Homo sapiens: one gene and its partners. The protein of the gene in region 4 interacts with the protein of the main gene of each other region in a biochemical or structural test. Each region holds a gene or a part of one and is shown on either strand. Other genes may lie near its edges. The genes, in order: S1PR4, PRKCD, CDH1, GNA12, PRKCE, PRKCB and CDH15.

What was found.
Region 1: the proteins of GNA12 (region 4) and S1PR4 form a complex in vitro, tested with the Homo sapiens proteins (one study listed by BioGRID).
Region 2: of the proteins of GNA12 (region 4) and PRKCD, one has a biochemical effect on the other in vitro, tested with the Homo sapiens proteins (one study listed by BioGRID).
Region 3: the proteins of GNA12 (region 4) and CDH1 form a complex in vitro, tested with the Homo sapiens proteins (one study listed by BioGRID).
Region 5: of the proteins of GNA12 (region 4) and PRKCE, one has a biochemical effect on the other in vitro, tested with the Homo sapiens proteins (one study listed by BioGRID).
Region 6: of the proteins of GNA12 (region 4) and PRKCB, one has a biochemical effect on the other in vitro, tested with the Homo sapiens proteins (one study listed by BioGRID).
Region 7: the proteins of GNA12 (region 4) and CDH15 form a complex in vitro, tested with the Homo sapiens proteins (one study listed by BioGRID).

What each region holds. Positions count from the first base shown.
Region 1 is NC_000019.10:3,177,635-3,180,832, reverse strand, and holds S1PR4 (sphingosine 1-phosphate receptor 4 precursor), read right to left. Parts: upstream 2,065-3,198; 5' UTR 2,041-2,064; coding exon 886-2,040; 3' UTR 501-885; downstream 1-500. UniProt on the Homo sapiens protein: Receptor for the lysosphingolipid sphingosine 1-phosphate (S1P). S1P is a bioactive lysophospholipid that elicits diverse physiological effect on most types of cells and tissues. May be involved in cell migration processes that are specific for lymphocytes.
Region 2 is NC_000003.12:53,181,709-53,185,208, reverse strand, and holds part of PRKCD (protein kinase C delta type), read right to left. Parts: coding exon 3,477-3,500; intron 2,089-3,476; coding exon 2,003-2,088; intron 1,758-2,002; coding exon 1,628-1,757; intron 336-1,627; coding exon 235-335; intron 1-234.
Region 3 is NC_000016.10:68,817,292-68,820,791, reverse strand, and holds part of CDH1 (cadherin-1 isoform 1 preproprotein), read right to left. Parts: intron 1,513-3,500; coding exon 1,367-1,512; intron 1-1,366.
Region 4 is NC_000007.14:2,795,809-2,799,308, forward strand, and holds part of GNA12 (guanine nucleotide-binding protein subunit alpha-12), read right to left. Parts: intron 1-3,500. UniProt on the Homo sapiens protein: Guanine nucleotide-binding proteins (G proteins) are involved as modulators or transducers in various transmembrane signaling systems. Activates effector molecule RhoA by binding and activating RhoGEFs (ARHGEF12/LARG).
Region 5 is NC_000002.12:46,008,175-46,011,674, reverse strand, and holds part of PRKCE (protein kinase C epsilon type), read right to left. Parts: intron 1,360-3,500; coding exon of another isoform or gene 1,342-1,359; exon of another isoform or gene 1,332-1,341; coding exon 1,158-1,331; intron 992-1,157; coding exon of another isoform or gene 938-991; exon of another isoform or gene 1-937.
Region 6 is NC_000016.10:24,181,983-24,185,482, reverse strand, and holds part of PRKCB (protein kinase C beta type), read right to left. Parts: intron 373-3,500; coding exon 292-372; intron 24-291; coding exon 1-23. UniProt on the Homo sapiens protein: Calcium-activated, phospholipid- and diacylglycerol (DAG)-dependent serine/threonine-protein kinase involved in various cellular processes such as regulation of the B-cell receptor (BCR) signalosome, oxidative stress-induced apoptosis, androgen receptor-dependent transcription regulation, insulin signaling and endothelial cells proliferation.
Region 7 is NC_000016.10:89,192,248-89,195,747, reverse strand, and holds the end of CDH15 (cadherin-15 preproprotein), read right to left. Parts: coding exon 3,304-3,500; intron 2,279-3,303; coding exon 2,142-2,278; intron 1,994-2,141; coding exon 1,835-1,993; intron 887-1,834; coding exon 593-886; 3' UTR 256-592; downstream 1-255. UniProt on the Homo sapiens protein: Cadherins are calcium-dependent cell adhesion proteins. They preferentially interact with themselves in a homophilic manner in connecting cells; cadherins may thus contribute to the sorting of heterogeneous cell types.

The DNA of each region.
Region 1 (3,198 bases), on a different chromosome or scaffold from region 4:
CCACTGGAGTTTCACGGGGCAGGCAGTTGTCAGCCCCTGTGGCTGGCGGGGAGCGTGTACAATCAACCCTGTGCTTCGGCTTCAGTGATTAAACTGTTTTACCCACCGGGAAAGCCGAGGCCGTTCATGCTGAAGGGGATGTGAGGGAAGATTCCCCCAGCCCAGGAAGCCAAGGTGGTGCCTCTGCCAGCCCCAGAGAGTGGGTCCCCAAAAGATGCAGAGGCCAGAGATGGGGCATGGGCCCTGCCATTTCTAAAGGGGAAGTGAACAAGAAGAGGCGGCATTAACTGTCATTGTCACCCCCACTTCCCGCAACGCCCAGAGGTTGTCCACACACACACACACACACACACACACACACACACACTCCACCCTCACAGGGCACTGGCCCGTGGCCCTCTCTAGCAAAGACACACCCGGCTGCCCCTAGATCCACAGCCCCCCTGAGCCACGGCCCCCACGCATGCACGCACCAGGGAATAAGAGGCCGCAACATCACGTACCATGATCGAACTTCAATGTTGCCAGGGCATGCATCCCACAGTCCACCCCTTGCAGCCTGGGAGCCCTACTGAGGCCCAGAGAGGGGCCGGGACTTCCCCAGAATCACACAGAAGCGGGGTTGTGGGGAACCCACTCGCCCCCACACCAGGGTGCTCTCTGCTCCTACGGGGAGGTGGGGTGGTTGCCTCCTTGTCCAGGGTGACCATGGGAAGCCCATTTGGCGTCAGAAGCCCCGAGAGGCCACCGGGAAGACCATGGGGGCCTGTCCCGTTCCCTGCTCCCCATACAGGCGAGGCTGCGTGCACACAGCTTCCTGTACCCCAGGAGGGCCTGCCTGGCACGCACCCGGTGGCTGCACCATCCACACGCAAGACTGCAACTTCAGATGCTCCGCACGCTGGAGATGCTGGACAGGGGCTCCCGCATCCGAAAGCTGAGCGAGCGGGAGCCGCGAAAGCTGTCCCTTGGCCTCAGAGAGCTGTCGGTGGTGGAAGCTCCGGAGTGAGCCTCGACGGCCCGGGCCAGGCAGTCCCCGGGCCCTCGCATGCCCAGCCGGAGACACCCGCAGCAGAGGAAGCTGAGCACGGCTCTGCACACCTCCCTGCTGCGGAAGGAGTAGATGATGGGGTTGACCGCCGAGTTGAGGACGGCCAGGGCCAGGATCCAGTCCATGCCCCGCAGGTACTCCTGGGCCCAGAGGTTGGAGCCAAAGACGTCGGCCAGCAGCAGCCCGAAGAGTGGGCCCCAGCACACCAGGAAGGCCAGCAGGATCATCAGCACCGTCTTCAGCAGGCGGCGGGCCTTGCGGCGGGCCGCTGGGCGTGGGGCCTTCTGCCCGCTGGCCTGCACCAGGCGGAAGATGGCCCCATAGAGGCCCATGATGGTGGCCAGGACGCCGGCGAAGATCACCAGGCAGAAGAGGATGTAGCGCTTGGAGTAGAGGGGCAGAAGGCTGGAGCAGCGGTCAAAGGCGCACAGGCAGTTCCAGCCCAGCAAAGGCAGCATCCCCAGCAGCGCGGCCAGCAGCCAGCAGAGGCCGATGAAGCCGTAGACGCGGCTGGTCTTGGTGGCCCCGCTCTCGGCCACCGGCCGCACCATGGTGGCAAAGCGCTCCCCTGCAGTGAAGAGCAGGCTGAAGGTGGAGGCGGCCAGGGCGGTGAAGAGCAGGCCCTCCCGTAGGAACCACTGGGCGGGCGCCAGACGGAAGGTGCGGGCCCCCGACAGCAGCACGTTGGCCAGGTAGGCCGCGCCCGTGAGCAGGTCACTCAGCGTGATGTTCACCAGGCAATAGTAGACCCAGCGTCGCGACCGCATGTGGCTGGTGATGGCCGCCAGCACCAGCAAGTTCTCCAGCACCACCAGGCAGCTGGCGGCCACCGACAGCCCCCGCAGGGCCCCCAGGCCGCCATCCTCCGGCCCCCCGCGCCCGGCCAGCCGGCCCGAGTGGTTGTAGTGCAGAACAATGAGCCGGCTGTGCCCGCCGGCCGCCAGCTGTTGGCAGGACTCGGGGGCCACCGGGGTCCCCGTGGCGTTCATGGCCTCCCCCGGGGGCTGACTGAGGCCCGACGCAGGGTGGAGCCACCCGCCTTGCTGGTCTTGGTTTCCTGTTATTTGAAATTTCCTGTTATGTTCAAGGTGCCCTCCAGGGTGGAGGTAAGGCCGAGGACAGGGAGGGGCACCCCAACGGTCGGCCCCCACCCGGGCTCCTGGAGCCAACGCGCTGGGGCTGCCCTGGCTGTGAGGACCCCCACCCCTGCCCTGGCTGCCTTCTTCCTGTCCTCGAAAGCCGGAGACCCGCAGGGAGCCCCGGAGCCGTCAGTCACGGAGGGGAAATGAGTCCCCACTCGGGATGGGCCACCCCTTTCCAGCCGGACGACTCCTCCCCACCAGCCCTGATCACCCCCGAAGCACCCGTCGGCTCCACTGAGGTCTCCCCACATGCTCCACCGGCGCTCAGCACACAGCAGGTGCCTAATAAATGTCAAGTGCCTGCATGCCCTTGAGCACTGACTCATCCGACTTGATCCCCGAAACAGGGCCTGATGCGTTACAGAAGAGGAAACTGAGGCCCAGAGAGCCCGGTGCGTTGCAGAAGGGGAAACTGAGGCCCAGAGAGCCCGATGCGTTGCAGAAGGGGAAACTGAGGCCCAGAGAGCCCGATGCGTTGCAGAAGGGGAAACTGAGGCCCAGAGAGCCCGAGGCGTTGCAGAAGGGGAAACTGAGGCCCAGAGAGCCCGAGGCGTTGCAGAAGGGGAAACTGAGGCCCAGAGAGCCCGATGCGTTGCAGAAGGGGAAACTGAGGCCCAGAGAGCCCGATGCGTTGCAGAAGGGGAAACTGAGGCCCAGAGAGCCCGATGCGTTGCAGAAGGGGAAACTGAGGCCCAGAGAGCCCGAGGCGTTGCAGAAGGGGAAACTGAGGCCCAGAGAGCCCGAGGCGTTGCAGAAGGGGAAACTGAGGCCCAGAGAGCCCGATGCGTTGCAGAAGGGGAAACTGAGGCCCAGAGAGCCCGAGGCGTTGCAGAAGGGGAAACTGAGGCCCAGAGAGCCCGATGCGTTGCAGAAGGGGAAACTGAGGCCCAGAGAGCCCGATGCGTTGCAGAAGGGGAAACTGAGGCCCAGAGAGCCCGATGCGTTGCAGAAGGGGAAACTGAGGCCCAGAGAGCCTGATGCGTTACAGAAGGGAAAACTGAGGCC
Region 2 (3,500 bases), on a different chromosome or scaffold from region 4:
ACTCCTGTGGTCCCCAGGTTCACCCTCAAGTAAAGAACTGCCTGAATAATGAATTTCTTATGAAAAAAAGCCCCCCTCCCTCTGCTGCCTAAATTCTTGAGTTGCATCTTCCCGAAGTAGAGTCCTGGGTCTAAATATATCCTGGCTGTCTGTGGCTCCCCAGCAGTGGCTGTAAGCCTTGACTGTCCCTGACCCCACTGCCCTGTGTCCAGGGTCCCCATGGCACCTGCCCACCTGGGTGACTTGGTTCAAGGCCTCAGCCAAAAGCTTCTGGTTGATGCCGCAGAGGTTGGCCACCTTCTCCCGGCATTTATGGTGCACATTCATGCCGCAGTCTGGGGTGAGGGAGAAGCGGGGCTGTCAGTCTCAGAGCTCAGCCAAGGGCAGGGGGCAGTGTAGGAGAGGCGCAGGAGAGCAAGAGAAAGGAGGGCTTCAGTGGGGTCTGCTGGGTTCCAGTTTCTAGGAAAACATTGATCTGAAGCCATCATAAATACTTCGATCTCTCTCTCTCTCTCTCTTTTTTTTTTTTTTTTGAGATGGAGTTTCCCTCTTATTGCCCAGGCTGGAGTGCAGTGGCGCAATCTCGGCTCACCGCAACCTCTGCCTCCTGGGTTCAAGGGATTCTCCTGCCTCAGCCTCCTGAGTAGCTGGGATTACAGGCATGCGCCACCATATCCGGCTAATTTTGTATTTTTAGTAGAGACGGGGTTTTTCCATGTTAGCCAGGCTGGTCTCGAACTCCCCACCTCAGGTGATCCACCTGCCTCGGCCTCCCAAAGTGCTGGGATTACAGGTGTGAGCCACCACGCCCGGCCAAGCATTTCAATCTTTCATGATTTTTGTTGTTGTTGTTGTTGTTGTTGTTGTTGTTGTTGAGACGGAGTCTCACTCTGTCACCCAGGCTGGAGTACAGTGACATGATTTCGGCTCACTGCAAGCTCTGCCTCCTGGGTTCACGCCATTCTCCTGCCTCAGCCTCCCGAGCAGCTGGGACTACAGGCGCCCGCCACCACGCCAGGCTAATTTTTTTGTATTTTTTTAGTAGAGACAGGGTTTCACCATGTTAGCCAGGATGGTCTCGATCTCCTAACCTCATGATCCGCCCGCCTCGGCCTCCCAAAGTGCTGGGATTACAGACGTGAGCCACCGCGCCCAGCCAATCTTTCATGATTTAAAGAAAAAGGAAAAACCAGAAGACAGGGACCTAATTCGAAACCCTTTAAAGAACATCTGGTCAACTTAAGCCGCTTTCCCTCCAGGGTCTTCTGTCTCATCTCTAAGTGAAGCAGAGGGCAGGGGAGGCCTGTCTGGGCGCCTGTCGGTGTGCACCAGGCCTGGCTTCAGCACCCTCTGCCCACTGGCCCCTCACAGGGACTCTCTAGGTCCTGCTTTTCTCCTCCAAATGGCTCAGAGGGGTGGAGCCGCCCACCTGTGGTCACACAGCAGGTAAGTGGCAGAGCCAGTCAGGCCAGTGGGGAGGGTCCACCAAGGCCTCACCCTCATCAGGTCCCTGAATGAGGTGCCCGTCTCCAGGTGAGGAGGCGAGGGTGGCGTGAGGTGGCTGGAATTCACAGCAGCACCAGCTGGGAGTGCCCCTCCTGCAGCCCAGGGGCGGGGTGGCACGCACCTTCACACTTTAATCCCTGCTTCACCAGTCCCCAGAGCAGGCTGCCGCAGTGGTCACAGAAGGTGGGGCTCATGTAGTTGTGAACCTTGAAGCGGTGCGGCATGTCGATGTTGAAGCGTTCTTTCTGGAACTGGAGGTGGGGGTATCACAGGCTGAGGGTCACGTGCCAGCTCCAGCCTCTTCTTCAACCCCTAGCTCTCCCCCAACCCTGGGCACAACAACATCCCAAGAGAGCTCCACTGGGAGAGGCAAGGAAAGACTAAGAAAAATGGGGAGGGAGGGTAAGCTCCCCAGGGAGGGTGGGGAGAGGGTGCAAATCCCTCCCATCTGGCCAAGCCCCCCAGATCCCCAGCCCTGCCCCGGACCCAGGCTCACTATAGTGTCCCGGCTGTTGGCCGCGGTGCCAGTGCATCTGCCGATGATCTTGTCGATGCATTTCTTGTGGATGGCAGCGTTACATTCTTGAAGAGGCACAGGCCCAGGAGGGGGAAGGGAAAGCACCGGGAGGGGCAGAGTCTATGAGCTGGTGCCTGCCGACCAGTCTAGCCCTCTACACAAAGCCACCGTTCTCCTGACCGCCCACACCCTCACCCCGCAGAGGCCCAGCGCTTGAGTCTTCCTCCTGCCAGCCCTCGAAGGAGGAGCCTGGAGAGGACGGGGCGGAGAGGACAGGCCAATCTGCAGGGGCTTAGAAAGAAGGAGTCCTAGTGGGCAGGGAGGTGGGCAGAAGTTAGCGGGCACAGGGCATCGCAATATGAGAAGCGGGGGCAGTTCTTCCAAGCCCTGGGATAGCAAACGGCTCCTAAATGCCCTCTCTTACACATGCACATGGACACGCCTCAAAACAGACACCTGTACATACACACAAAGCATGTGTAATAATGATAACAGACTTCTTACACAGAGCGGCTACCAGTGGAAGGCACTTAAAATACAGCTTTACATATCTTATTCCATTTGATCTTCACAATGACCCTATTATACATTATAGTTATATCTAATTTATAGATGAGGGCCAGGCACGATGGCTCACGCCTATAATCCCAGCACTTTGGGAGGCTGAGGTGGGTGAGTCACTTGAGGTCAGGAGTTTGAGACCAGCCTGGCCAACATGACAAAGCCCCTATTCTACTAAAAATACAAAAATTAGCCGGGCATGGTGGTGCACGCCTGTAATCCCAGCTACTCAGGAGGCTAAGGCAAGAGAATCGCTTGAACCTTGGAGAGGGAGGTTACAGTGAGCTGAGATCGCACAACTGCACTCTAGCTTGGGCAACAGAATGAGACTCAGTCTCAAAAAAAAAAAAATTATAGATGAGGAAACTGAGGCACAGAGAGGTTAAGTAACTTTGCCTAAGGCCCTATAGCTAGGAAGTGGTAGAGCTGGGATTCAAACCCAGGCAGTCTGACTCCAGCCTGCGGCGCCTCGTGTATACACCCTCAGGGACAGAGTGTGCTCACACCTGTGTACTCAGAGACACCCACATCTACACAGAAGCACATGCAGCCACTATGTGCCAGTAAAGGACCTATCATTGCCTCTCCGAGGAAAAGAGGCCTGGTGCATGGCCTGGGCTGGTTTCTGCGTGAATACTCTACTGTGCCCAATTGCCATCCACCAACTCCCCGTCACTGAATGCGGAGCTGGGAAGAGATGCGCAGAACTGGTTTTCCAGAGCAGCAGCAAGCCAGCCCCAGCACTCACTGAACTCAGCTGCTGTATCTACACTGGGAAAACTCACGTGCATACACTCTCTGAGCGCACACAGGCACTGGCATACACACAGGCACTGGCACACGTGAGCACACATGGGTACATACGTACAAACTGGCCTGTGGAGACACTTACGCCTGCATTTGTAGCCTTGCTTGT
Region 3 (3,500 bases), on a different chromosome or scaffold from region 4:
CCAGCCTATAAATGTATTTAAATACACAGAAGCAGTCTGGAAGGACCCACACCTAACTGATTTAACACCTAACTAATTTCACCCACATGGGTATTAACATTTTTCAGGTAAAGGAATTGAGGGACATAAAAATTAAACAGCAGGCCAGGCACGGTGGCTCACACCTGTAATCCCAGCACTCTGGGAGGCCAAGGTGGGCAGATCACAAGGTCAGGAGTTCAAGACCAGCTTGGCCAATATGGTGAAACCCCGTTTCTACTAAAAATACAAAAAATTAGCTGGGCGTGGTGGTGCACACCTGTAATCCCAGCTACTTGGGAGGCTGAGGTAGGACAATTGCTTGAACCTGGGAGGCGGAAGCTGCAGTGAGCCAAGATTGCACCACTGCACTCCAGCCTGGGTGACAGAGCAAGACTCTGTCTCAAAAAAAAAAAAAAAATTAAACAGCAAATCCAAGGTCACACAAGTATTAAGCTTTGGAAATGGATTGTAAACCATCATTACCTGGTTCCCTTAGGGAAGGAATAAAGAGTGAGTAGTGAAAAGTAAGTTCTGTTTGACCAAAATTACTTGAAAAAACAATTTTTTTTTTGGAGACAGAGTCTTGCTCTGTTGCCCAGGATGGAGAGCAGTGGCGCAATCTTGGCTCACTGCAGCCTCCACCTTTCAGACTCAAGCAATCCTACCACTTCAGCCTTCTGAGTAGCTGGGCCTACAGGTGCTCACCAACACACTCAGCTAATTTATGTACTTTTTGTAGAGACAGGGTTTTGCCATGTTACCCAGGCTGGTCTTGAACTCCTGGGCTCAAGTGATCCTCCCACCTCAGCCTCTCTAAGTGCTGGGATTACAGGTGTGAGTCACCGTGCCCAGCCCACTTGAATTTTTGATAATAAGAATGCCTTTGTTTAAGAATAAAAGAGAAATCTTTTGCAGCAACATGGATGAAACTGGAGGCCATTGTCTCAAGTGAAACGAATCAGACATATAAGGAGAAATACTGCATGTTCTCACTTAGAAGTCGGAGTTCGATAATGTGTACACATGGATGTAGATTGTGGAATGATAGACAATGGCAGCTGGGAAGGGTCCAAGGGGTGGGAGGGGGTAGATGATGAACAATTACTTAATGGGTACAATGCATGTTATTTGGGTGACGGATACCCTAAAAGCCCTGACTTTACCACTACACATCTATGCATGTAACAAAATTACCCTTGTACTCCATACATTTATACAAATCAATCCAGCAAACAAAAAGGATAAAAGAAAAAGAATGAACTCTTCCCTCCAAAAGAAGGGAGGGGCAAGGAACTGAACTAGCTAGGAGGTCGAGGCAGCAAAGGCTCAGATGAGGCCCCCTTACCATTGTCTGTAGCTATGATTAGGGCTGTGTACGTGCTGTTCTTCACGTGCTCAAAATCCTCCCTGTCCAGCTCAGCCCGAGTGGAAATGGCACCAGTGTCCGGATTAATCTCCAGCCAGTTGGCAGTGTCTCTCCAAATCCGATATCTGAACGGGGACAAGCTCTGGCTTTTAGAATAGGACCAGCAAACAACATGTAGCTGAAAACGGCTTAAGCGCTTCTTCAGTTATATGGTTACTTCCAACGTTTTTATTTTGAAAACCAACAATAGGCCGGTCGCGGTGGCTCATGCCTGTAATCCCAACACTTTGGGAGGCTGAGGTGGGCAGATCACCTGAGGTCAGGGGTTTGAGACCAGCCTGGTCAACATGGTGAAACCCTGTCTCTACTAAAAATACAAAAATTAGCTGGGTGTGGTGGCACACGCCTGTAATCCCAGCTACTGGGGAGGGTGAGGCAGGAGAATCGTTTGAACCTGGGAGATGGAGGTTGCAGTGAGCCGAGATTGCACCACTGCACTCCAGCCTGGGCAACAAAAGTGAAACCCTTTCTTTCTTTTTTTTTTTTTTTTTTTTTGAGACGGAGTCTTGCTCTGTAGCCCAAGCTGGAGTGCAGTGGCGCGATGTCGGCTCGCTGCAAGCTCCACCTCCTGGGTTCACACCATTCTTCTGCCTCAGCCTCCGGAGTAGCTGGGACTAGAGGCGCCCGCCATCACGCCCGGCTAATTTTTTTGTATTGTTAGTTGAGACGCGGTTTACACCGTTTTAGCCAGGATGGTCTCGATCTCCTGACCTCATGATCCGCACGTCTCGGCCTCCCAAAGTGCTGGGATTACAGGCGTGAGCCACCGCGCCCGGCCGAAACTCCGTCTTTAAAAAAAAAAAAAAAAAAAGAAAACCAAGAAAACCAACAATACAACAGACAAGTTACTATAATAGTATGATGACCATCCATGAACTCTTCACCTGAGTTTACTCATTGTTAATACTTTGCCACATCTGCTCTGTCTATATTGACACACGCCTACATAATTTCTTGTTCTGCTGAACCATCTGCAAATAAATTGCAGAAGTCATGTTCCTTTACTTATAAATATGTCAATGTGTTATCTCCTAAGAACAAAGGCATTCTGTTATATAACCCCAATTTGATTTTCTTTTTTTTTCTTTTCTTTTTTTTTTTTTTTGGGACAGAGTCTCGTTCTGTCGCCCAGGCTGGAGTACAGTGGCGTGATCTCAGCTCACTGCAAGCTCCACCTCCCAGGTTCATGCCATTCTCCTGCCCCAGCCTCCTGAATAGCTGGGTCTACAGGCACCCGCCACCACGCCCGGCTAATTTTTTGTATTTTTAGTAGAGACGAGGTTTCACCATGTTAGCCAGGATAGTCTCGATCTCCTGACCTCAGATGATCCACCCATCTCGGCCTCCCAAAGCACTGGGATTGCAGGTGTGAGCCACCGTGACCAGTCTTGATTTTCAATTTTAGGAAACAAAACTTTGATAGAATTCTATTGTCGAATATATGGTGCATATTCGAATTGTCAGATTTTCCAAAAATGTCCTTTATAGCAACCTTGCACCCTTCTGGATTCAGGATCCAATATGGCCTTTCGTTGGCATGGCTCTTCCTTAGGTCTTTCTTTTCTGTCACTGACATTTTTGAAATGTGCTGGCCGTTGTTTTGTAGCATGCCCCTTAACTTGGGTTTGTCTGATTATTCCTCAAAATTTAGATTCAGGTAATCCATTTCAGGGGTCGGTGGGGGCAAGAACAGGACAGAGGTGATGCTGTGGCCTCCCTAGTGCAGGACACTGGGAGGCACATGATGTCTGTCTGTGCTTCTATTGATAACTTTGATCACTTGGATAAGGGAAAGGCCACCAGATTTCTTCACAGCAAAGGTGCCTTTTTTCACTGCATGATTAACCTATAATCTGCAGGTAGATAATTTGAGAATATCTTGTTCAGCAACTAATTTTCACCCAATGGATTTGGCATCTGTGGATGATTCTTGCTGAAGCAATGATTACTATAATCCTTATTTATTTTTAAAAGCAGACTCCTGCAGACCAGCTCCCCCAAACAATACAGTAGTTCCTAAATGGTGGCAACATGCCACCTCCTCTCCTGTCAT
Region 4 (3,500 bases):
AAAACAACTTTTTTTTTTTTTTTTTTCTTAGATGGAGTTTCACTCTTTTTGCCCTGGCCTGGAGTGCAATGGAGTGATCTCGGCTCACTGCAACCTCCGCCTCCCAGGTTCAAGCAATTCTCCTGCCTCAGCCTCCTAAGTAGCTAGGATTACAGGTACCTGCCACCAGGCCCGGCTAATTTTTTATTTTTAGCTGAGATTACAGACCACCACGGACTGCTAATTTTTGTATTTTTAGTAGAGAGGGGGGTTCCACCATGTTGTCCAGCCTGGTCTCGAACTCCTGACCTCAGCTGATCCGCCCGCCTCAGCCTCCCCGCCAAAAAAACAATGTTTTAACAACAACTATAGTAGCCTCCACCCCTTATCCGTGGCATAAGTTCCAAGACCCTCAGTGGATGTCTGAACGGTACCAAGCCCTACCTGTATTGTTTTTAAAGTTTAATTTAATTTATGAATTAGGCACAGTAAGAGATTAATAATAGCTAATAATAAAATACAACAATTATAACAATATACTGTCATGAAAGTTAAGTAAATATGGTCTCTCCTTCTGTCTCTCAAATGTGGTATCACCGTCCGCGCCTATTTTCCGTTGGCGGCTGGCTGTGGATAACGGGAGATGACTGTACTGCCAAGAGTACTACCAGCGCTACTATTGTCATCATCACTGAAATCTGGCAGCTCCTCTATTCCAAAAGATACAACTGCTTCTTCCAGCTTAAAACGGGTGGGAAAACATACAAATCCAGGCAGTCAGCAGTCATGAGACAGGAAAAGACTAAAATACGACAAGCCAAGTAGCCCGCCCACCAAAACGGGAGCCAGGGGATCATGTTCTAGATTTAACGTCACCATCGTTTGTGATGAGAAACTACTTTTCATTCTTTTGCTTGTTTCCTCATTGTTAAAGATAAAGTTAATGTTGTTCTGCCCCTTCTTACCTCATCAACAGGGTCAAAGGGATGAAGAAATAACTAACATAGTATTAGGGAATGCAGCCAGCCTTTGGAAAATATTCTCTCAGCAAAAACAGCACCCCCTGAGCAGTTAGGAGGTCTGTTCCACCATCCTTAGACTAATGTTTCGAAATCAGCAAGGCAGTGTTTATGAGAACTTCTGTGTTCTTCTGAGGGGCACACTGCATACTCTCTGGTATGGTCTACACTGGGGGTATACAGAGTGGTCAAGGGCCCTGAGAAGGCTATCAAGTACACATCTGTCCATCTGGAAAAGCCTTCTCATCTCAGAGCAATCTGAGGGACTCAGGCCAGCTGAGAGCAGCATCCCATCCTCCAGGACAGAGAAAACCAGGGTCACCTGCTCACTAGGCACTTATCTATGTTCCTTTTTTGGAGACTGGGTCTTGCTCTGTCACCCAGGCTGGAGTGCAGTGGCATGAACATGGCTCACTGCAATCTCGACCTTCTGGGCTCAAGTGATCCTTGCCCGTAGCCTCTCAAGGAGCTGGGACCACAGGCATGCCTCGTTACGCCCGGCTAATTTTAAGATTTTCGTAGAGTCAGGGTCTCACTATATTGCCCAGGCTAGTCTCAAACTCCTGAGCTCAACTGATCCTCTGGCCTTAGCCTTCCAAAGCACTAGGAATTACAGGTGTGAGCCACTGCATCCGGCCTTTTTTTTTTTTTCCTTTTTAAATAACAGTTTTACTGTGCTATAATCCATGTACCATATAACTCATCAATTTGAAGTGTACAACTTAATGATTTTTAGTTGGCACTTATCCTAAAAATCTTCATTTCTGACACCCAGGGCAGAGCAGATGAATCCATTCTGCCTCCTTCATCTCTCTCCTGCAGCATCAATTTGGTGCCTATAACTTCCACTTCTGCCTTGAACCACTGAGTCAGACGTAATGATGACCAAAGAGTAGTTGAAAGTCTCCTCCAGACCCAGCTGACCAGGACGGTCTGGTTAGAGATGCTCCCTGATTTTCCCCTCAGGACCTTGTCTGTCTGCCGTTGGAGACCATGCCTAGTTCTACCAATCCACAAACATTTGTTCAGTGTGTTTGTTTGTGGGGGAAACAAACTTTAAGAAGCAGTATCTGACCCCCAGAAACTCAGAGTCTGGCTAGAAAGACAAATGTATGGATAAAAAAAATACTTACCACCCACTCATGATTTTAAAAAACCTTTGCAAACTAGGAACAGAGAAATGCTTCAACTTGATAAAGAACACTGACAAAAAAACATACAGCTAACCTCATAATTAATGTGAAAGACTGAATGCTTTCCCTCCAACACTAGGAAAAGACAAAGATGCCTACTTCTGCTACTGCTATTCAACATGGTTCTGGAAGTTCTAGCCAGTGCGACAAGGTAGGAAAATGAAATAAAAGATCACACAGCTCAGGAAAAGCAGGGGGGAAAACAAATAGATTAGACACACAAAAAAAGAAAACACACAACTAAACCCATTTGCAGATAAAAAGATGATCTATGTTGAAAATCCCAAAGTAATCTACCAAAAAAACTCCTAGAATAAACAAATGAATCCAGAATAGTTGCAGGATATAATGTCAACACACGAAATTCAATTGTCTTTCTATATACTAGCAATGAACATGTGGAAAGTGAAATGAAAGATGTACTACTACTAACTATCACTAAAAAAACGAAACAGGTATAAATCTAACAAAATATGTGTAGGACTTATGTGCTGAAAACTGCAAAATGTTGAGGAAAGAAATTTTCAAAATCTAATAGATATACCACGGTCACGAATTAGAAGATTCAACACGGTACCAATATCCTTAAATTAATAAACAGGTTTAGCACAATTTCCATAAAATCCCAGCAGGATCTTTTGTAGATATAAATATGATTATTTGAAAATTTATATGAAAAAGCATTAAATTAGCTAAAGCAACTTTGAAAAAGAAAAGTGGGAACAATCAGTCTATCTGATTTTAAGACTTATTATATAGCTATGATAATCAAGACTGTGTGGTATTGGTGAGGTGACAGACCCACAGATCAATGGAACATAACAGAGAACCCAGGGATAGCCCCTGATACAGCTAGGTAATTTTTGTAAAAGTGCAAAAGCAATTAAAAAGAGGAAGCCTGGTCTTTTCAACAAACGCTGTTGGAGGAAGTGGACTTCCACAGGTAAAGAAAATTGGGGGGAGCGGGGGAGGGGGTGGGGAAGAACCTTGACCTAAACCTCACAGCTTATACAAAATCAAATCAAAATGTAGAACTATATATAACATAGGAGAATATCTTCAGGATGTAGGGTGTGCTCAAAGTTCTTAGATGTGACTCCAAATACATGATTCACACGAGAAAAATTATCAATAAATTGAACTTGATGAAAACGAAAATATTTTGCTCCGCCAAAGACCCTCTTAAGAGGCTGAAAAGAAGCTATGAACTGGGAGAAAATATTTGCCAACCACACATCTGCCATATCTGACAAAGGACTCATTTAGAATATACAAGGACATTCAAAACTCAACAGTTAGGCCAGGCACA
Region 5 (3,500 bases), on a different chromosome or scaffold from region 4:
TAATAAACATACGTGTGTTGAGACTAAGAGAGGTTACGTTTGCAGTGACTCCAACTATGGGTCACAGAGTCCTTTCTTCTTACAGCTGCTCAAGTGATTGGGGTTCTGAGAAATCCTCTCTGGGAAACGGTGTACCAAAGATAATGTAAACTCCATGAGGTCAGGGACTAGTCTAGTTCACCACTGTATCTCCAGCACCTGGCATGGCATCAGATACACGGGAAGGATATAATGAAATATAATAAAAGAAAAGTTTGCCAAATGACTCAATGAATAACTATTGAATTTTAAGTGGAAAAACTGGCATTCAAAATGACATGGAGATGAGAATACACCCAGAAGCAAGGTATCACCTCTCCATGATGTCACCCTCAGGGTCTGGGTTCCACATAAGCCACAGCTAGGAGTTTCAGGTGATGTCTGTCTTTGCCTTCTCAAGAAGCAAAATACTACAAACATCCATAATGATCCTAAAAGACTTTAACTCCTCCCAACCCCTCAAAAAGGATAACAAAATTAGAGCTTCATGAAGAACATTGCTGTTTCTTTACTAAAAACAGGTAACAAATTAGTTAATAATACTCGAGTCAGACTCTACCATGGAGTTATGGATTATCTTTGTTTCTTTACTGCCACCTTCTGGTTCCCAGACACCTATGCGGTAAATTAAAAATGCTGCCTTATATTTGTGTTTCACTATGAAATTTTAAGCATTTGTTCACATCCTTTATTTCAGATGACATTACACAGATTAGAAGAGATTAAGGTGGCCTTTACTCTTTTTCATATGACATGAAAATAACTTAGAAGTTAAGTGATTTGATTAGTGATAGAAAGTTAGGAGCAGAGCAAGGACTAACCACACTTGTTGGTTTTTCCAATGAGCAAACAGTGAGTTTAGCCATTTGGCTTTGTCCAACTCTGGCTGCAAAGAATTCTACAGCTCTCTCATCCCTTCACAAGCACAACCTTGAATGGAAAATCCTGTGCCCTAAAAAAGAAGATGCTGTTCAAATACATCCTGATCTTTTCAAGGGTAAAACCCATCCCACTTTACAAAGTCTTTGAGAGAACAATGTAGAGGGTCTAAAATTGGTATTTTATCTGATAGTCAAGATGCCCCAACATGGCAGCCAGCCAGCTTCTTCCTAACATACCTTGGTCTGGAAGCAGCAGTAGAGTTGGGTAAGGTACGGGTGTTTCCGTGCCAGAGCCAAAATCCTCTTCTCTGTCATTGTGCAGTCCACGTCATCATCCTGAAGGATGACGTCCTTCTTTAAGACCTTCACAGCATATACTTCATCTTTGCCCTTGAGTTCTGCCAACATGACCTGCAATCAATCAATTGCCTCCATCAATCTATGCATGTATGGAATAAAAAGAAGAAGTGTAAGCTAATACCAAATACTTCAAAAACGAATTCTGTTTTTTCTTTAATTTTAAATATTATAACAAGCCTGGTGTGGTGGCATGCACCCAAGATACTTGGGAGGCTGAGGTAGAAGGATCATTTGAGCCCAGGAGTTACAGATCAGCATGGGCAACATAGCAAGACCCCCTCTCAAGATGTATACATAATGTTTAAGAAAACTTCCTATTCTACAATTACTACCGTTCTACAGTTACTACATTCTAATAGTTACTACAATTTATTTATTTTTGATCTCTGGCACAATGCCCAGGCATAGAAAAGAGAAGTTCAATGCACATCTGTTGAATGGTTATTCATATGTTTATATGTGTTTGTCATACTTACAATTACAGTACACCAACTATTTTTACAGTTACAGTACAGTAAAATAATGTAACTATTTTTAACTGAACATTATCTTACAGACATTCTCCATATGGTCTCCATTATTATCACGGTTGCTTATACTCAATTCAAGTAAATATAATTTATTTAACCATTTCCCTCAAATTAGGCACTTCAGTTATATCTAATCATTAAGTATTATATAAGTTGCATTGAGTATTTTTGTACACAATTAAAACAATTTCTCTTGGATTACATTTGTAAGATGGAAACCCTCATAAGTAGATTAAAGGGTGAAGCATTTTGCACATTTCCTATTTTCAGAAAGGATGTGTGATACAATGTGCCACTAGCAATGTAGAAGTGTTGGAGTTTCATGGTGACTTACCAATACTGAGTAGTTTCACTTAAAAAGTATTTTTGCTCACTTAATAGGTGTGAAATGTTACCTTGATGCTATTTTTACTTAAAATGAAACTTTAAAATTAACTGTTTTCTGACTGTATTTCTTTTCGTGTAAATTATTCACGTCTCCTTTGTCTAATTATGCTGCTATCATATTAATTTCTTACAAATTTATACACATGTGATATATAAAGATACTAACCCTTTACTTTCTGTAAAAGGTTTTCTAAGCCTGTTTTATAATTTTCTGTTATTTTATTCTATTGAAAAGAATCATGTATCTTTATGTAGTTGAATCTGTCCTTGTTTGCCTTTATGGTTTCTTTTATAACTCTGAAGCTGGAAACGTGATTCCTTTTCAAGAGAGCTAATTAACAGTTCTATGTTCTTAAAGTGTTCCTATCATTTGATATTTTTGCACTCATTTACCTACAAACGTCACAAGCCTTTCTCTTCTTAAATAAGTAACTCCTAAGTACAGTATTCCAATGTAAGTCATCAAAGCTAAAAAGCAGCCATCAGAAACTTAATGAGGGAATTCATGATGTTAACCTGAAGACTTTTTGTCGCCCGCGTATTTTACAGACTCTTTAAAACTGGCTCAAACTTTGGCTGTGATTTTTCCTAAGAGATAACCTAAATGCTCCAAAGTCATCTAAGTTCCCATTCTGCCTACACTATATGAAAACCTAGAATCTCGGAGTCTTGCTCAAAATTAGACCACATCCTGTTCAGGTCCCAGAGTTATGCCTAACCAGAGGACCTCTTTTTATTTAGTCAGTCTCTAAAGAATGTAATTGCTTCAGCTTTTGCCATTTAAGTAAACCCCAGTTACCTTCCCACCAGAGTGGTATCAGGGTGAGATAGGGGCAGGTGAGACGGCTGGGAACCAGGTGGGATGGGCCAGCTGACTGACCTACAGGCTGCTGCTTTCAAGAGTCCAGGACATGCCAGGGCATGTGATCCCAGGAGCTTCCTGGTCCCCAGAGCAGGACCTCCCAGAACTTCTCAGGGGGTCCCAGAAAGGTGACTCCCAGGCTTAGCTCTGAACAGAACCAGGGAACAATCAGAGATCTCAGGTGAAATGCAAACAGCTTCCTCTGCTCCCTGCCCCTTCATCTTCTTTCTAAATGAACAGGAGTTAATTTTTCCATCTCACCCAGCCATCGGAATGGTGGCTGATCACCTTTAGTGCTTTATTGAGCATACTAAAGGCCACACCCCACACCACTGTGTTCATCTCAGTGGGAACAGGATATGGAGAATGGCACCAAGGGCAGAGGACCCTGATCCGAGGCATGAGATGATTATTCCCATTTTCTTGCCACGTGTAAAGGAT
Region 6 (3,500 bases), on a different chromosome or scaffold from region 4:
TCATCCTCCCCTTCAAAGGGTGCCTGTATGACAGGGGAGGGTGGGAGGAGAAGAATCCCTGCTTGAACCCTCCCCCTAGCTCCCCTCAACTGGCAGACCCTCCTCCCTGGGGCCCACAGTGAAGCCACACACCCAGGCTTTCAAATGACCACAGACTTGTATGACCCCAAGGCCGGGAAAGTCATAGAGGTTCCAATTTATGAGCTGTTACCAAACATGCATTCTCCTAAAGAAACCATGTGGATGGGGGTAGGGAGGACTTCTCTTATCGATCACTTAAAATTCAATTACCTGCCCAGCCAACATTTCATACAGCAGGACTCCAAATGCCCACCAATCCACGGACTTCCCATAGGGCTGATAAGCAATTATCTAGAAAAGAGAAGGCACCCTATCAGGGAGGTTTGCAGTTCATGTTTCTTCTGGAGACAGATTTCACTCTTCTTTTACAAGAAGGCCAGTGCCCACCTGAACTGTTTCTTTATATTAGCTATTCAGGGAATGACAGACATGCTTTGCAGAGGCACCTGCAGCTGGGCAAACACCTGTGGCTGTCACATTGCCTTTTCGAAGCACTAAGTAAGGTGTATTGTTATTATTATTTTCAAAACAGTGAGCATGGAATTTTTAAAAGGAAAAACTGTCTTTACTCCTCTGTAAAAGTTACAACATTTACACAATAATGTAAATATACTTAACACTACTAAATTGTATACTTAGAACTGGTTAAAATAGTAAATTTTACGTTACATGTTTTTAAAACATAATTAAACATAAAAACGTTTAAGAGATAACAACATTTGTCACTATTTTAATATTTCTTTATAAAAGATAGCTCAGCTGAGATAATAACATGAAAATCACCCATAATCCTTTATTAAGAGAAAAATTATGACTAATATTTGGTCTACTTCATTCCATACTCTTTTCTCTGAATACATATTAAACTCTGTGTGTATGTGTGTGCTTTACATAAACACTTTAGTATTTGGACGATTTTTTTTCTTTTTTTCTTTTCTTTTTTTTTTGAGATAGTGTCTCTTTTTGTCACCCAGGCTGGAGTGCAGTGGTGAGATCATAGCTCACAGCTCACAGCCTTGGCCTCCTGGGCTCAAGCAATCCTCGCACCTCAGCCTCCTGTGTAGTTGGGACTACAGGTGCTCACCACCATGCTAATTATTTAATTTTTTGTAGGGATGGGGTCTCTCTATATTGCCCAGACTGATCTCAAACTCAAGCAAAGCTCCCATCTTGGCCTCCCAAAGCACTGGGATTATGGGCAATAGATCTTTAATAAAGCCAGTTATTCACTTAAGTTTTCCTTGCTAATTTAATATTTGTATATGAACATAATCAATTTTTATCTGTGCATAGCATTCCGTTGAATGGATATACCAAAATCTATCTTATAAATTTCCAGTTGATTAGGTTTCTTCCAATGCTGTAACATATATTCTTGTAATTAGACATTTGGACATCTGTCCAAGTATTTCCTTAAGATAAACTCCTAGATGTAGAATTGGTGTATCATATGGTATATATGGTTGTGAAGTTTTTAATTCATATTCCCAAACTGCAAGAACATGGAAAAGTCTAGAAGAGCTATGTGATTGTCCATCTTTCAGTATGCAGGGATGTAAAACTAACCATGTCAGAGGTTAAGAGGTAATACAGCAAAGGCTAAAGGCTGAGGTCTGAGGGTTAGGCAGTCTGACTTTGAATCCTGACTGCTGTCTACCGGTTGGCTGTCTGACCACAGGAGAAGTTACTTAACTTCTATAATCTCTATATCATGAAGTTATGTGAGGATGAATGAGATACTCGGTGGCTTTCACATATTATGCCCTCAAAATGTTAACTAATCCTAGAATGTTTTATAATTCAGTTATTGCTTGTTTAACTCAAAAAGGGTATTTGAGCAAACTTGGCTATAAAGTGAATGTTTGTTTCTTGATCTCTATCTCCCACTTTGATTTCTATTCCAAAATCAGAAATGCAGAGATGTTGATTACAGGATACAAAATTTCAGTTAAGTAGCAGGAATAAATTCAAGAGACTTATCGTGTAACACAGTAACCATAGTTAATAACAATCTATTGTATTCTTGAAAATTGCTAAGAGGGATTTTTAAGTGTTTTTACCATAAAAAAATAAGTATGTGAGACAATAAATATGTTAATTAACTCAACTTAGCCATTCCACAATGTATGCATATTTCAGAACAACATGTTGCACATGATAAATGTATACAATTTTACTGGTCAATTATGAATGAATGAAATGCATTCTGAGAAGTAACCCTCAAGACAAGGAAGGGAAAGCATTCCAGGAGAACACTTCTCATTGAACGTGTTTTCCACTTTGGGAGGCCGAGGCGGGCGGATCACGAGGTCAGGAGATCGCGACCATCCTGGCTAACACGGTGAAACCCCGTCTCTACTAAAAAAATACAAAAAAAATTAGCTGGGCGTGGTGATGGGCACCTGTAGTCCCAGCTACTCGGGAGGCTGAGGCAGGAGAATGGCATGAATCCAGGAGGCAGAGCTTGCAGTGAGTAGACAGAGTGAGACCCTGTCTCAAACACACACACACACACACACACACACACAAGAAACAATGTGGGATGCCCAAGCATCATCCCATTAGAATCTCTGCAGGTGGAGGCCCAGGATCTGTGGTTCTCAGAAGTTCCTCGCTGGTCGTGATTCAGGCAAGCACAAGAAACCCTCAACTGTGTGGCTGGTGAAGTTGCCTCCCCTCCAGCCCACAGATGGGAGGGATAAGCAGCAGGTCAGGCTTTGTCATGAGCTAACCACATCACCTTCGGCAACTGCTGTCACATCCCAGGCTCTAGTTTCCTTTGTAAAAGGATTAACTTGTTGGCTTGTCATGAGGATCAAATAAGACTTGAAGTACTTTAAAAGTGTGGAAACACTTTCTTTCTTTCTTTCTTTCTTTTTTTGAGACAGAGTCTCGCTCAGTCGCCCAGGGTGGGGTGCAGTGGCATGATCACTGCTTACTGCAGCCTCTACCTGCTGGGCTCAAGTGATCCTCCCACCTTAGCCTCCTGAGTAGTCAGGACAGCAGGGGTGACCTAGTGCACCTGGCGAATTTTTAATTTTTTTTGTAGAGATTAGGGTCTCACTATGTTGTCCAGTCTGGTCTCAAACTTCTACCCTCAAGCGATCTTCTTGCCTCAGGCTCCCAAAGTGCTGAGATTACAGGAGTGAGCCACCATGCCCCAGCTGCATCCTACATTGTAAAAGCTCCCTCACGACTCTAAACTGCAGTTAGAGTTGAGAACCAGAGATTATGGAACCCCTGGCCTATCAGGAAGTTGTGTTATGGATTGTGTCCTATCTAATTAATTAACAAAATGATAATAGACCAAAGCATATCACATAGGGAAAACTTCACTGGGTCCGAGTAAAGCCTTATTATTTTTAAAGAATTACTTTATTACTCAAGTAATACCCAAATACATTTACCTTGTAAAAAAT
Region 7 (3,500 bases), on a different chromosome or scaffold from region 4:
CTGGTTCTTCCCTCAGGCCACACCTGGGGCCTGGAAGGGTCTCACCTGTGCCTGCTCCCCACCTCTGGGCTCACCAGCAAGGAGCCAGGGTGTCAGCGGCTGCTCCATAGCCCCTGTCCAGGTAGTGGCAGCCCCCGGCCGCCTCCTGCCCCAGCCAAGCAGGGTGGTATGGGGGCCTGGCCCTCAGGTCCCTGCCAGGCCAGGCCTCACTGGCCCCATCCCCCTCATGGTCAGTGTGGCAGTGGGCGCCCGTCCTGCATGAAAGAGACTAGCACGTTTTTCATTCAGATTTACCCAGGAGGTTGCTGTCTTTCATACAAAGATGAGGTTCACTGGTAGGAGGCAAAGGTGGGACTAGGGAGGTGACCCGCATGGGGCCGATGGAGAGAAACTCTTCCCACCCCGGCAGGAAGGGGCCTCTTCCTGGCCGCCCCATCCACACTCAGGTTCTGCCCCCAGACTTGGGCCCTCGCCTACAGGAAGGAGGCTGCCCCAGGCCCAGGGGGGTCGGGCCCGGTGACCTCAGGCTGCCTCTGCAGGGGCCATCACTGCCACGAGGCCGGGGAGTGGCATGTCCAGTTGCGCCCCAGGGTCAGGCTGTCCGGCCTCTGTGTCTGGGTAGCAGTGCCCCAGGAGAAAGACCCTCCCTGGCCTGGTGGTCCCATCTGGCCCCGTACTCCAACCCGCACGGGTGCCCATACATGTCTGCCAGCCGGGCGAAGCGGGGCCCCCAGTCTCTGAGGTAGTCGTAGTCCTGGTCCTCATCGCCCTGGCTGGACAGGATGGAGCTCAGCGTCCCCGCCACCGAGCCGTCACCCTCGTAGTCATAGATGAGGGCTGTGTCGTAAGGCGGCACACTGGGGTCACTATCTGCAGCCTCCAAGCCCTATAAAGAGGCCCGGAGAGCTCAAGACACATGGAGGGGCCAGCGGGTGCCCCACCGCCGTGGCCACAGCCCAGGGCAAAGTCAGCTCAAGGCACGGGCTCAGGAAGGGGAAGCTGCCCACGTCCGGGGGCGAGGTCTGAGGGGAGGCAAAGCGTCCTGAGGGCACAGCAGCAGGGTTGTGAAGAGGGTGCCACGGACTACCCCCTTCCTCAGTATTAGGCCAGCGGCCAGCCCGTCCCCCGGGGCTCTGCCCTGCCCCAGCAAGGTGGGAAGGGGTTGCTCCCCCTCACCCTGGTCTCTTCCTCCCCGTGGCCCTTGTCCACTCAAGGCAGAACCCGAGCCTCCTGGACACCCCCATCCGCAGAACGGCCCGTCTGCCTTTCGGAGGCTCTGTCTGCATGTCTGTCCTCTCAGCTCGTGGGGACACACGCTCCTAACCGGGGGTGTACACCTTGGCTGGGGGCTTTCTCTGAGCCAGGTGCTACAGGTGCAGACAGGCACAGAGGAGGGTTCCCTGTGCGCCCCACACCCCAGATTCCCCGTGTGCACATTCATCCTGTGGATGGCAGGGAATCATTAACGCTGTGTCCAGAGGGTCTTCTATGGAGGCCCTGATTCCGCTGACAGCCACCGAAGCCCAGGGGATGCTCCCGGGGCTCCCCCACCCCCTCCATGGTGGACACGGGGCAGTGGATGGGTCTGTGGCCATCGCCACTCCATCTGTGCAAAGACCCGCGTCGCGGGTGGAGGCTGAGGGCCCAGTTTGGACGGTGGCAGCGGGGCTTCCACACTCCCGCCCGCACACCATCTTCCTCTGCGGTGCTCTGGGACGGCCCATAAGTGCATGCAGGCGCCGGTTCTTGCATGCATGTGCAGGTGTGTACATGTGCATGTGTGTGTGCACCTGTGCGTGCCTGTGTGTACTGGGGTGTCCCCAGGAGCACCTACATCATTGATGAAGTCGGCGATGTCCAGGGGGCTGGTGGGCAGCACTCGGGGTGGCTGGGGGTGCAGGCGGCCCTGCGGGGCATCTCTGCGAAGTGGCGGCGGTCCCAGAGGCAGGCTCAGCGCTGTCGGGTGACGCAGCTGGCTGATGTCGTAGGCGTCCTGTGGGCGAGGAGGTGGAACAGAGCCAGGCATCCCTCGGGTGGCCCTGGTGGAGGTCTCAGGTACAGGCTCCTGGCCAGCTTGTTGTAAGAAGGCCCGCGACCTGGGTTCCTTGGGGACCCCTCCCCACCCACACCTGCCCCCTCACCTGGTCCTCCTCCCCGCCTCCTTGCTCATCGTAGTTGAGGACATTGTCTCGAAGGTCGTCCTGGGGGCCGTGCAGCAGCCCCTTGCCCCGAGACTGCTTCCAGAACCGCGCCCGGAGTGCCACGAGCAGGACCAGCACTGGGGAATGAGGGGACGCAGGCTGGGGCCAGGCACAGGGCGCGACTTCAGGGGGCCGGGCTGCGAAGGAGGTGGGAGGAGGGGGCGGGGCGGGGCAAGGCTGGTAAGCAGGGGTGGGGTTGAGGGGGCGGCAGTTGGGGAAAGGGCGTGTCTGGCATGGAGGAGCCGGGGTTGGGGAGGAAGCCGCGAGGTTAGGGAGGAGGGGGCCGGGTTGTGGAGGAGGGAGCTTGGCTGGTAAGGAGAGGCCGGCTTGGGGAAGAGGCGTGGCTGGCAACGAGGGGGCGGGGTTTGCGAGCAGGGGGCGGGTTGGGTGGAAGCGGCGTGGCTGGTAATGAGTGGGTGGTGTTGGGGAGGAGGCGGCAGTGGAGAAGGGGCGTGGCTGGTAATGAGGGGGCGGGGTTAGGGAGGAGGCGGAGCTGGGGAGGAAGGGGCGTGGCTAGTAATGAGGGGGCGGGGTTGGCGAGCAGGGGGCGGGTTGGGTGGAAGCGGCGTGGCTGGTAATGAGTGGGTGGTGTTGCGGAGGAGGTGGAACTGGGGAGGAAGGGGCGTGGCTGGTACTGAGGGGGCGGGGTTACGGAGGAGGAGGAGCTGGGGAGGAAGCGGCGTGGCTGGTACTGAGGGGCGGGGTTAGGGAGGAGGAGGAGCTGGGGAGGAAGCGGCGAGGCTGGTAATGAGGGGGCGGGGTTAGGGAGGAGGCGGAGCTGGGGAGGAAGCGGCGAGGCTGGTAATGAGGGGGCGGGGTTAGGGAGGAGGCGGAGCTGGGGAGGAAGCGGCGTGGCTGGTAATGAGGGGGCGGGGTTAGGGAGGAGGCGGAGCTGGGGAGGAAGCGGCGTGGCTGGTAATGACGGGGCGGGGTTAGGGAGGAGGCGGAGCTGGGGAGGAAGCGGCGTGGCTGGTAATGAGGGGGCGGGGTTAGGGAGGAGGCGGAGCTGGGGAGGAAGCGGCGTGGCTGGTTAGCAGGGGACGGCCTGGGGAGGAGGGTCCGAGGGTCCGAGGGTCCAGGTGGAGGCGGGGCGCTCACTCACCCAGCAGCAGGAGGGCGCTGGCCAGCACGATGACCAGTGCGCCCAGGCTGAGGCCTGTGCCCCCCGCCAGCAGCGCTGCGGCCCCCGGCAGGCAGACGCCGTCCTTGCCGCAGCGGCACACGGTCACGTTCAGAGGCTGCTCGCGCTGCTGGGGCGGCTGCCCCGAGTCCCGGAGCAGCAGGCTGAGGCGGTGCAGG